Homo sapiens: one gene and its partner. The protein of the gene in region 2 interacts with the protein of the main gene of each other region in a biochemical or structural test. Each region holds a gene or a part of one and is shown on either strand. Other genes may lie near its edges.

Region 1 (3,500 bases), on a different chromosome or scaffold from region 2:
AAGGAGGGCAAAGAATAAAACAGCCTTGAGGAAATCATTAAGAATGTTGATGGAGATTTAAATAACAGAGACAATAGTGTTTGTAAATGTGATAAAAATAGAAATAACGGCCATGGTGGTGGCTCATACCTGTAATTCCAGCTCTTTGGGAGGCCAAGGTGAGAGAATCACTTGAACCCAGGAGTTCAAGACAAGCCTGAGCAATATACGGAGACCCTGTCTCTAGAATGGGGTAGCCAATCCCTCTTCTAGAGACAGGTACTGATCCGTGGCTTGTTAGGAACTGGAGCACACAGCAGGAAGTGAGTGATGGGCGAAGGAGCATCATCACCTGAGCTCTGCCTCCATCAGATCAGTGGCGCATTAGATTCTCATAGGAGCCTGAACCCTGTTGGGAACTGCACATGCGAGGGATCTAGATTGTGGGCTTCTTATGAGAATCTAATGTCTGATGATCTGTGGTGGAACAGTTTTGTCCCAAAACCTCCCCCAACCAACCCCGTCCATGGAAAAATTATCTTCTGTAAAACCGGTCGCTGGTGCCAAAAAGGCTGGGGACTACAACTCCAGAAAAAAATTTTTAAAACATTAGCCAGGTGTCATGGCACATACCTGTAGTCCCAGCTACTTGGGGGGCTGAGGTAGGATGATTGCTTGAGCCCGGGAGGTTGAGGCTACAGTGAGCTAGGATCGTGCCACTGCATTCCAGCCTGAGTGACAAAGCAATACCCTGACTCTAAAAAATAAAGAAATAAATAGAAAGAACCTAAATCTCTCATAATTAATTAAGCTGACACATTTGCAACCATTTAAAATTATTCAGGGTGACTCTACTCAATAACAATGTATCGTATATTTCAAAATAACCAATAGAGTAAATTTCAAATGTCTCACCACAAAAAAAAGTGAGGCAATAGATATGCTAATTAGCCTGATCATCCCACATTGTTTACATATATCAAATCATCACATTATACTAAATAAATGTATATAATTGATTTGTCAATTTAAATATTAATAAAAATTTAAAATTTGCAAATAATATTTACTAATATTGAAAAGTATTATTATACACTAATAGGTTATAAAATAGTATGTATGTTATGAACCTACTGTCCTTTAAAAAATAGATCTGTGGGGCCAAGTGCTGTGGCTTACACCTGTAATCCCAACACTGTGAAAGGCCAAGGTGAGAGGATTGCTTGAGTCCAGGAGTTTGAGACCAGCCTGGGCAACATAGCAAAAGCCTGTCTTTAAAAAAAATTTTTTTGAGTGGCCAGTTAAAAAAAAATTTTTTTTTTTTTGAGATGGAGTCTCACTCTGTTGCCCAGGCTGGAGTGCAGTGGCACGATCTCGGCTCACTGCAACCTCTGCCTCCCAGGTTCAAGCGATTCTCCTGCCCCAGCCTCCCAAGTAGCTGGGATTACAGGCACGCACCACCACGTCTGGCTAATTTTTGTATTTTTGGTAGAGATGGGGTTTCACCATGTTGGCCAGGCTGGTTTCGAACTCCTGACCTCAGTTGATCCACCTGCCTCAGCCTCCCAAAGTGCTGGGATTACAGGCATGAGCCACCATGCCTGGCCAAAAAAAAACTTTTTTTTAAAAAATAGATATGTATTTCTGTGTTGAGAAAGATCTTGAAGAACATGTACAAAGATGTTACTAATTATATTTGGGTGATGGGAGTATTTATAGTTTTTTATTTTTACTTACTTGTATTTCTAAGTTTTCTGTGATGAATAAGTAAAAAGAAAAATGTATATTTTTTATTTTTAAAGAAAAATGCGGCTAGGCATGGTGGCTCATGCCTGTAATCCAAGCACTTTGGGAGGCCAAGGCGGGCAGATCATCTGAGGTCAGGAGTTTGAGACTAGCCTGACCAACATGGTGAAATCCCATCTCTACTAAAAATTAAAAAATTAGCTGGGTGTGATGGTGCACACCTGTAATCCCAGCTACCCAGGAGGCTGAGGCACGAGAATCACTTGAACCCCAGAGGCGGAGGTTGCAGTGAGCCAAGATCGCGCCATTGGACTCCAGCCTGGGCGACAGAGTGAGACCCCATCTCAAGAAAAAAAAATGCAAAGGCTTTTGTAGAGACTTCTGGCCACAGGTTCGCTCACAAGTGGTTCTTGCCCACTTCGGCAACTTGTTAGAGCCACTTGGGCCACCAGGTGATTTTCTCTGGCCCATCTGACCTACCTCTCCTATTTGAGGCTGCTAGGGCTGCCATAACAAAATGGCATAGACTGAGTGGCTGAAACAATGGAAATTTGTCTCTCACAGCTCTGGAAACTGGAAATCCAAGTCAAGATATTGACAGGCCTGGTTTCTTCTGAGGCCTCTCTCCTTGGCTTGCAGATGGCTGCCTCCTCGCTGTGTCCTCACATGGTCTTTCCTCTGTGTGCATGTATCCCTGGTGTTTCTGTGTGTTTGCATTCCTCTTCATGTAAGGACACCAGGCAGATTAGATTAGGGCCTACCCTAAAGGCCACATTTTAGCTTAACCACCTCTTTAAAGGCCCTATCTCCAAATCGAGGTACTTAGAGCTACAGCATTTGAATTGGGGGGACTCAATTCAGCACATAACACCTCCTGATGAAAGCTTCCCATCACCATACCAAGGGGCCCTTGTCACCCCAAGGATTGGCTTTAGATGCCAATCTCTGTTCATCCTTTCTCGGCATCTGATAGCTCATCAGTTTAGCAAGTGGAAACTTTTTTTTGTCCACCTGTGCCATCCATGAACATTTTTGTGAAAACACTGACCAGTAAAGGAACAGCAGTGCCACACTCCATCGTATGTTGCTGCCATCGCTTGGTTCGCATGCGTATTCACAGGTCCCCAGTAGGACAGGTCGGGGGACAAGCCTGCTTACGTCACTGTCACGAGGGGATAGCCAAGGCCCAGAGGTTCAGTGACTCACCAAAGACACATTGTTTCCCTGAATCCACTGCTCCTCATCTGAGCCCAGGGCTTCACTGTAGAATTTTTGGCCGCTTTCTTTCTTTTTGATGTTCAGGAACTCCAATTGTGAGGTTTTTGTTTTTTGTTTTTTGGTTTTTTGTTTTGAGACGGAGTCTCGCTCTGTCACCCAGGCCAGGGTGCAGTGGTGCAATCTCGACTCACTGCAACCTCTGCCTCCCGGGTTCAAACGATTCTCCTGCCTCAGCCTTCCAAATAGCTGGGACTACAGGCATGTGTCACCACGCCCGGCTAGTTTTTTGTATTTTTAGTAGAGACGGAGTTTCACCGTGTTAGCCAGGATGGTCCCGATCTCCTGACCTCGTGATCTGCCTGCCTCCACCTCCCAAAGTGCTGGGATTACAGGCATGAGCCACTGCTCCCGGCCTAATTGTAAGGTTCTTATTGGACTCCATAAGGAATTGGGCTTTGGAGTCTGATGGATTTTACCCAGCCACTAACTAGCTGATTATGTGATTTTGAGGAAGTTTCTTAAGCTCTGAGCTTAAAAGGCTTATTTACTTAAAAAAG
Region 2 (5,455 bases):
GACATTATGTAGGGAAATAGCAGCAGAGAATGGCTAATCTTAAAAAATAACGAACCAACCAACCAAAAAACAAAACAAAACAAGACCAACAAAAAAAAGTGCCATCCCACCCCTCCCCTTGGTTCTTTCATTTGGGGTTATATTAAAGACTCGAGCCTCTGAGAAAATCAGAAAGGCAAAGCCATAGAGGAAAACTGCTTCAAGGCCAGAATTTTGGGTAAGGTAAAGAAAAAGCTGTACATGAAAGCAGGGGACTGTTTGGAAAAGAATCAGAATCTCAAGATCTATTTTTCTTAAATGGGAAAGCTCTGAAACCCAGATCTCCGTTCTACCATCATCCTGATCCTTTAGTTATGGGGCAATAAACTCAAGTGCAATGAGTAAAGTGCCAGCCATGGATACAAAAACAAAAAATAAAACAAAACAACCAACCAAAATAACTCTGGTCTTAGGGTAATAGAAGACATACAGGAAAGGACTGTTTATAGAACACCTGAGGTTCTCAAGAAATTACTATTCAATGGTTCTGTTTTTGCTTACATTAAAAATCAGACTGAAGATTCAAAGATCTTAACTATTAAAGGATGAAAGGAATTTGACAGTGCTTTGAACAGTGATAAAATGGTACCCAAATTTGGTGTTCATATAGCTATTTAAAAAAGACAGTAGCTTAAAAGTTGCAGGAAAAAATGTGAACACAGAGAACAACAGAAACAGTCCAGGAAGATGATGCAGCCCGGACACAGCAAGTTTAATGTCTCTGCTGTACATAGAATTAAGACCCTTTCCCCCTCCTCATCCTTATGCTGGCAATAGGATATGCACTAGAAAATTTGACTCTTAGAGTCAATGAATAAAAGGATGGGCTCATACACCTTCATAGCTCTTTTCAAAAAGGATGCTTATAATTTAAAGGATGTCCTAATGGGAAGGAAAGGTACAGGGCAAGAGGCTGTTTCACATTTTAGTCCATTAGTCTTTGGCAGAGCCCAACCAAGGCCAAATTCACCTAGGATGCCCAATGGCTGTGGGGATCTCCACAGGGTCAAGTAAGCAAACCCAAATGAACATGTTGGATTAAAAAAAAAACAAGATCTAGAAACTCTTGAAGGAAGAGCTTCACCCTGAAAAGGGAAGAGGAAAATGCTTGAAGGGGAAGGGCGGAGGGTCAGTGTGTGATCTCTGCTGTGGTGCTGGGCAGGGGCTTAGGAGTTAAGCCAAGGGTGCCGGAGACACTCGGCGGCAGTGGCTCTCTTCTCAGGGATCAGCTCCAACATGGGCAGTAAGAAATCTGTGAAGCCAGCTGCCTCTTCCTGCGACCACTCATACTTCTCCACTAGAACCTCAAAAAGGCCCCAAGGTTTCAGCTTCGTGATATGTTTCAGGTCACCTGCAGTGAAGACAGTACAGAAAAAGCCACTGATCAACACAGACAAATGACAAGGTACTCTTGTGGAAACCCACAAACTAACCCATGTAGTCTATGAGGAATCAAATTTTGCAATCAGAATCTAATCCTTCATTCACAAAGCATTTCTTTTCTGACATATGCCTCAGAAAGAAGTGCCTCTATTCTTCATACGGCTCCAAAAATTTAAGGTAATTTGTTTTCTCCCCTATTCTAGGATTTTTTTGGTCCCAGTCAAACTGGGTGTGACAATCAAGAAGTAGGTATTTACTACTAAAATAAACATGAAATGCCTATGTCTTCAACATGGTCTTATATGGTGTGCAGAGACACTCTAGTACCACATACCGAGAATAATTTGCTTATACTCTTTTTTTGTGTATGTGCTCAATAGTTTAGTAAATGTTGCTTTACAGTGAGGCAGTAAAGTTAAAACATCATGTCAAGCATGGATAAAAGCAACAAAAAAAACCCCAAATCCTACACAGTTTTCAGATACAACAGCTTCATATACTCTATACCAGGGGTCCCCAACTCTATACCAATACCCCCTATGGTACCAGTCTGCGGTCTGTCAGGTCTGCACAGCAGCAGGTCAGTGGTGGGCCAGCAAGCATTACTGCCTAAGCTCCACCTCCTGTCAGCTCAGTGGCTGCATTAGATTCTCACAGGAGCGTGAATCCTACTGTGAACTGCAGTAGGGATCTAGGTTGCATGTTCCATAAAAGAACCTAATGCCTGACAATCTGAGGTGACACAGTTTTATCTCCAAACCACCCCCCAACCCCCCCATCCATTGAAAAACTGTCTTCCACAAAACCAGTCCCTGGTGCCAAAAAGATTGGGGACCGCTGCTCTACACTATACTGGAGTATCAACCTAATTGCTTCTTTGAAGTGACAACTTTTTAAAAGATAGTCAATTATTAATAGCTAAGGCAAATGCTGCTTTAAAATTTTAAGTTGGCCAGGCACAGTGGCTCATGCCTGTAATTCCAGCACTTTGGGAGGCTGAGTCGGGTGGATCACTTGAGCTCAGGAGTTCAAGACCAGCCTGGGCAACATAGTGAAACCCTGCCTCTACCAAAAATACAAAAAAATTAGCTGTGTATGGTGGCACATGCCTGTGGTCCTAGCTACTTGGGAGGTTGAGGCAGGAGGATCATTTGAACCTGGGAGGTGGAGGTTGCAGTGAGCCAAGATCGTGCCACTGTACTCCAGCCTGGGTGACAGAGTGATACCCTGTCTCAATAATAATAATAATAATAATAATAATAATAATTTTTTTTAAACATAAAAATTTTAAGTCTCTTTTGTGAGCAGTGAGTGCCTATTTGATTACCTACCTGGTAAACACACATGCCTTAATCTGACTGCACATGAGGAGGAACTCTTATGAAACATTTTACAATTTTCCCACCTAAAAAGAGGTTTAAGAAAGGGTAATGTTTCTGAGGATGGCTCCTGCCAAGGATTGAGAAAAGTCATTTTTCTCAGCACTTCTGTAGAAGTTGTGAGGAAAAAGGGAACCATGGCACAATGGGGGTAGAAAAACCAGACCATTTCCTAGATGCTTCTAGGTCAGGTTTTCACATTTCAGGTTTTTTTTGCAATGCTTAAGAAATATATTATCAAGTCAAAAATTGGAAGTTTTGTTTTTGTGGTTTTTTTTGTAATAACAAATACATAAAACTAAAAAGTGTGAAGTTCGTTTGTATGACTAATGTACTTCGAGTGACTGTGTTAGGTGTCACTGGGATGCAAAGATGAGTGAGATGTAGTCCCTGCCCTTATGTAAGAAGCTTAAATTACCTGCCCTTTGGTAGAGGCAGTTCTTAGACCAAACGCCAGCAAAAAATTTGCCCATTTTTCAGAAGTGCTATAGAAGTAATCAACCAACTGCATGCAGGCACTATACATATTAACTGTTAGTAAGAAGTATACTTTATTATTATCTCCATTAAGAAATCAGCAAACTGAGGCACAGTTAGATCCTGTCAAAGGTCACATGGCTAGTGGAGTAGCCAGGATTTGACAGTCTGGCTCCAGTCTCTGCTCTTTTTTTTCCCCGAGACAGGATCTTGCTCTGTTGCCCATGCTGGAGTGCAGTGGCAATCATGGCTCACTGCAGCCTTGACCTCCCAGGCTCAAGTGATCCTCCCACCCCAGCTTTCGGAGTAGCTGCGACCACAGGTGTGTACCACCATGCCCAGTTAATTAAAAATTTTTTTTTGTAGAGACAGGGTTTTCCTGTGCTGCCCAGGCTGGTCTTGAACTCCTAGACTCAAGTGATCCTCCTGCCTTGGACTCCCAAAGTGTTGGGATTACAGGCGTGAGCCACCATGCCTGGCTCCAGTCTCTGCTTTTTTTTTTTTTTTGTGAGACAGAGTTTCACTCTTGTTGCCCAGGCTGGAGGGCAATGGTGCGATCTTGGCTCACTGCAACCTCCGCCTCCCAGATTCAAGTGATTCTCCTGTCTCAGCCTCCTGAGTAGCTGGGATTACAGGCGCCCGCCACTCTTCCCAGCTAATTTTTTGTATTTTTAGTAGAGACGGGGTTTCACCGGGTTGGCCAGGCTGTTCTCAAACTCCTGATATTGTGATTCGCCCACCTTGGTCTCCCAAAGTGCTGGGATCACAGGTATGAGCCACCGCGCCCGGCTCAGTCTCTGCTCTTGACCACTTTTTTTACCTCTTTTTTATCTCTTTGCTAAGTCACAGGTTAGCATTCAAGGCAGGCCCATCATTCTGTAGGACATTGGGAATATGTGCTTACCTCTTCATTTTTAAACACTTCTGCCTCCTTAATGTCTGGGAACACATTTACTTTACCTTTTTTGGTGAAAAATTCCTTGGAATATTTTCCTGCCACAATGAGCTTGCGAGGCACCTTCCCCAGAAGTTCTATGATCAATGCAATGTGATCTGTATATTTCAAACATTTCAAGAGGGGGGAAAAAAAAGATCCGTAACAAGAGTAACAAATGCAGCTCTAGAAAACAGCAGAAGGAGCAGCATGCACATCTCTTTGTAAAGCCTATCAGGCTTACTTTCTATCCTAAATGGGAAGAGGAAGACTCTATCCATCTAATGGAGAATTCACAAAGTCAAATTTTTGTGGATTCAGTGATAACTAAAAACAATCTTGGTGTGAATGCTCTGCTTCCTGAAGTATCCCTGGGTCCTACATAACAATACTACCTCTGTGACTGAAGAAGTCTTGTGAATATTTCCCACTGAGGGAAAAGCGTCTTGGAATTCTGCCTATCAGCTCTATAATGTGCACAATGTGGTCTAAAATAGAAGGGTAAGAAGAACAGATCAAGGACAAGCTGTAAAAGAGGTTTTTCTATGAATAGCTTTTTCAAGGACTAGCTGTTTAAAAGTAACTACAAATAAAACCAAGGATACTGAAGGAAGACTGACTGGGAAGGCCAAGAATTATTTCAGGTGGTTGGTCACCCGATAGTGTCTGGCAAGTCCCATTCTGGATTTTGGAGGCTTATCTTCATCTTTAGTTCTATTTTGTCTATATATCTAGGTTCAGGTAGGTTCTTTAGGTAAGATAAAAAACTGTCCAAATATGTGTTAGGCATTCTAGAACTATTATTTGTGATCATTCTGTCTCAGCCTCCCCAGTGGCTGGGATTTCAGGCATGTGCCACCACACCTGGCTGACTTAAAACATTTTTTGTAGAGATGAGGTCTTGGCATACTGCCAAGCTGGTCTCAAACTCCTGGGCTCAAGCAATCCTCCTGCCTTGGCCTCCCGAAGTGTTGGGATTACAGGCCTGAGCCACCACCTGGCTGATACCCCATTTTAAAGATGAGAAAATAGAACTTCAAAAAGCATGAATGGCCTAACTTGAAACTTCAGGGCTAATATGAGCTAAAACTCAGATGAAAACCAATGATCTTATGTCTTGTCTAAAGCTTTTAATTTCTTCCTAAAATCACTTTTTAAAAGTAAAGATTAGCACAAACATTTTAAAGTATAGCTGCTTGATGATCTGTAAACATCACAGTATGAATATGGACCATGAGCACAA

Evidence for each region.
Region 1: of the proteins of SRPK1 (region 2) and ADPRH, one has a biochemical effect on the other in vitro, tested with the Homo sapiens proteins (one large-scale study listed by BioGRID and IntAct).

Annotation. Positions count from the first base shown.
Region 1 is NC_000003.12:119,582,492-119,585,991, forward strand, and holds part of ADPRH (ADP-ribosylarginine hydrolase), read left to right. Parts: intron 1-3,500.
Region 2 is NC_000006.12:35,834,099-35,839,553, forward strand, and holds part of SRPK1 (SRSF protein kinase 1), read right to left. Parts: intron 4,332-5,455; coding exon 4,239-4,331; intron 1,391-4,238; coding exon 1,206-1,390; 3' UTR 1-1,205. UniProt on the Homo sapiens protein: Serine/arginine-rich protein-specific kinase which specifically phosphorylates its substrates at serine residues located in regions rich in arginine/serine dipeptides, known as RS domains and is involved in the phosphorylation of SR splicing factors and the regulation of splicing.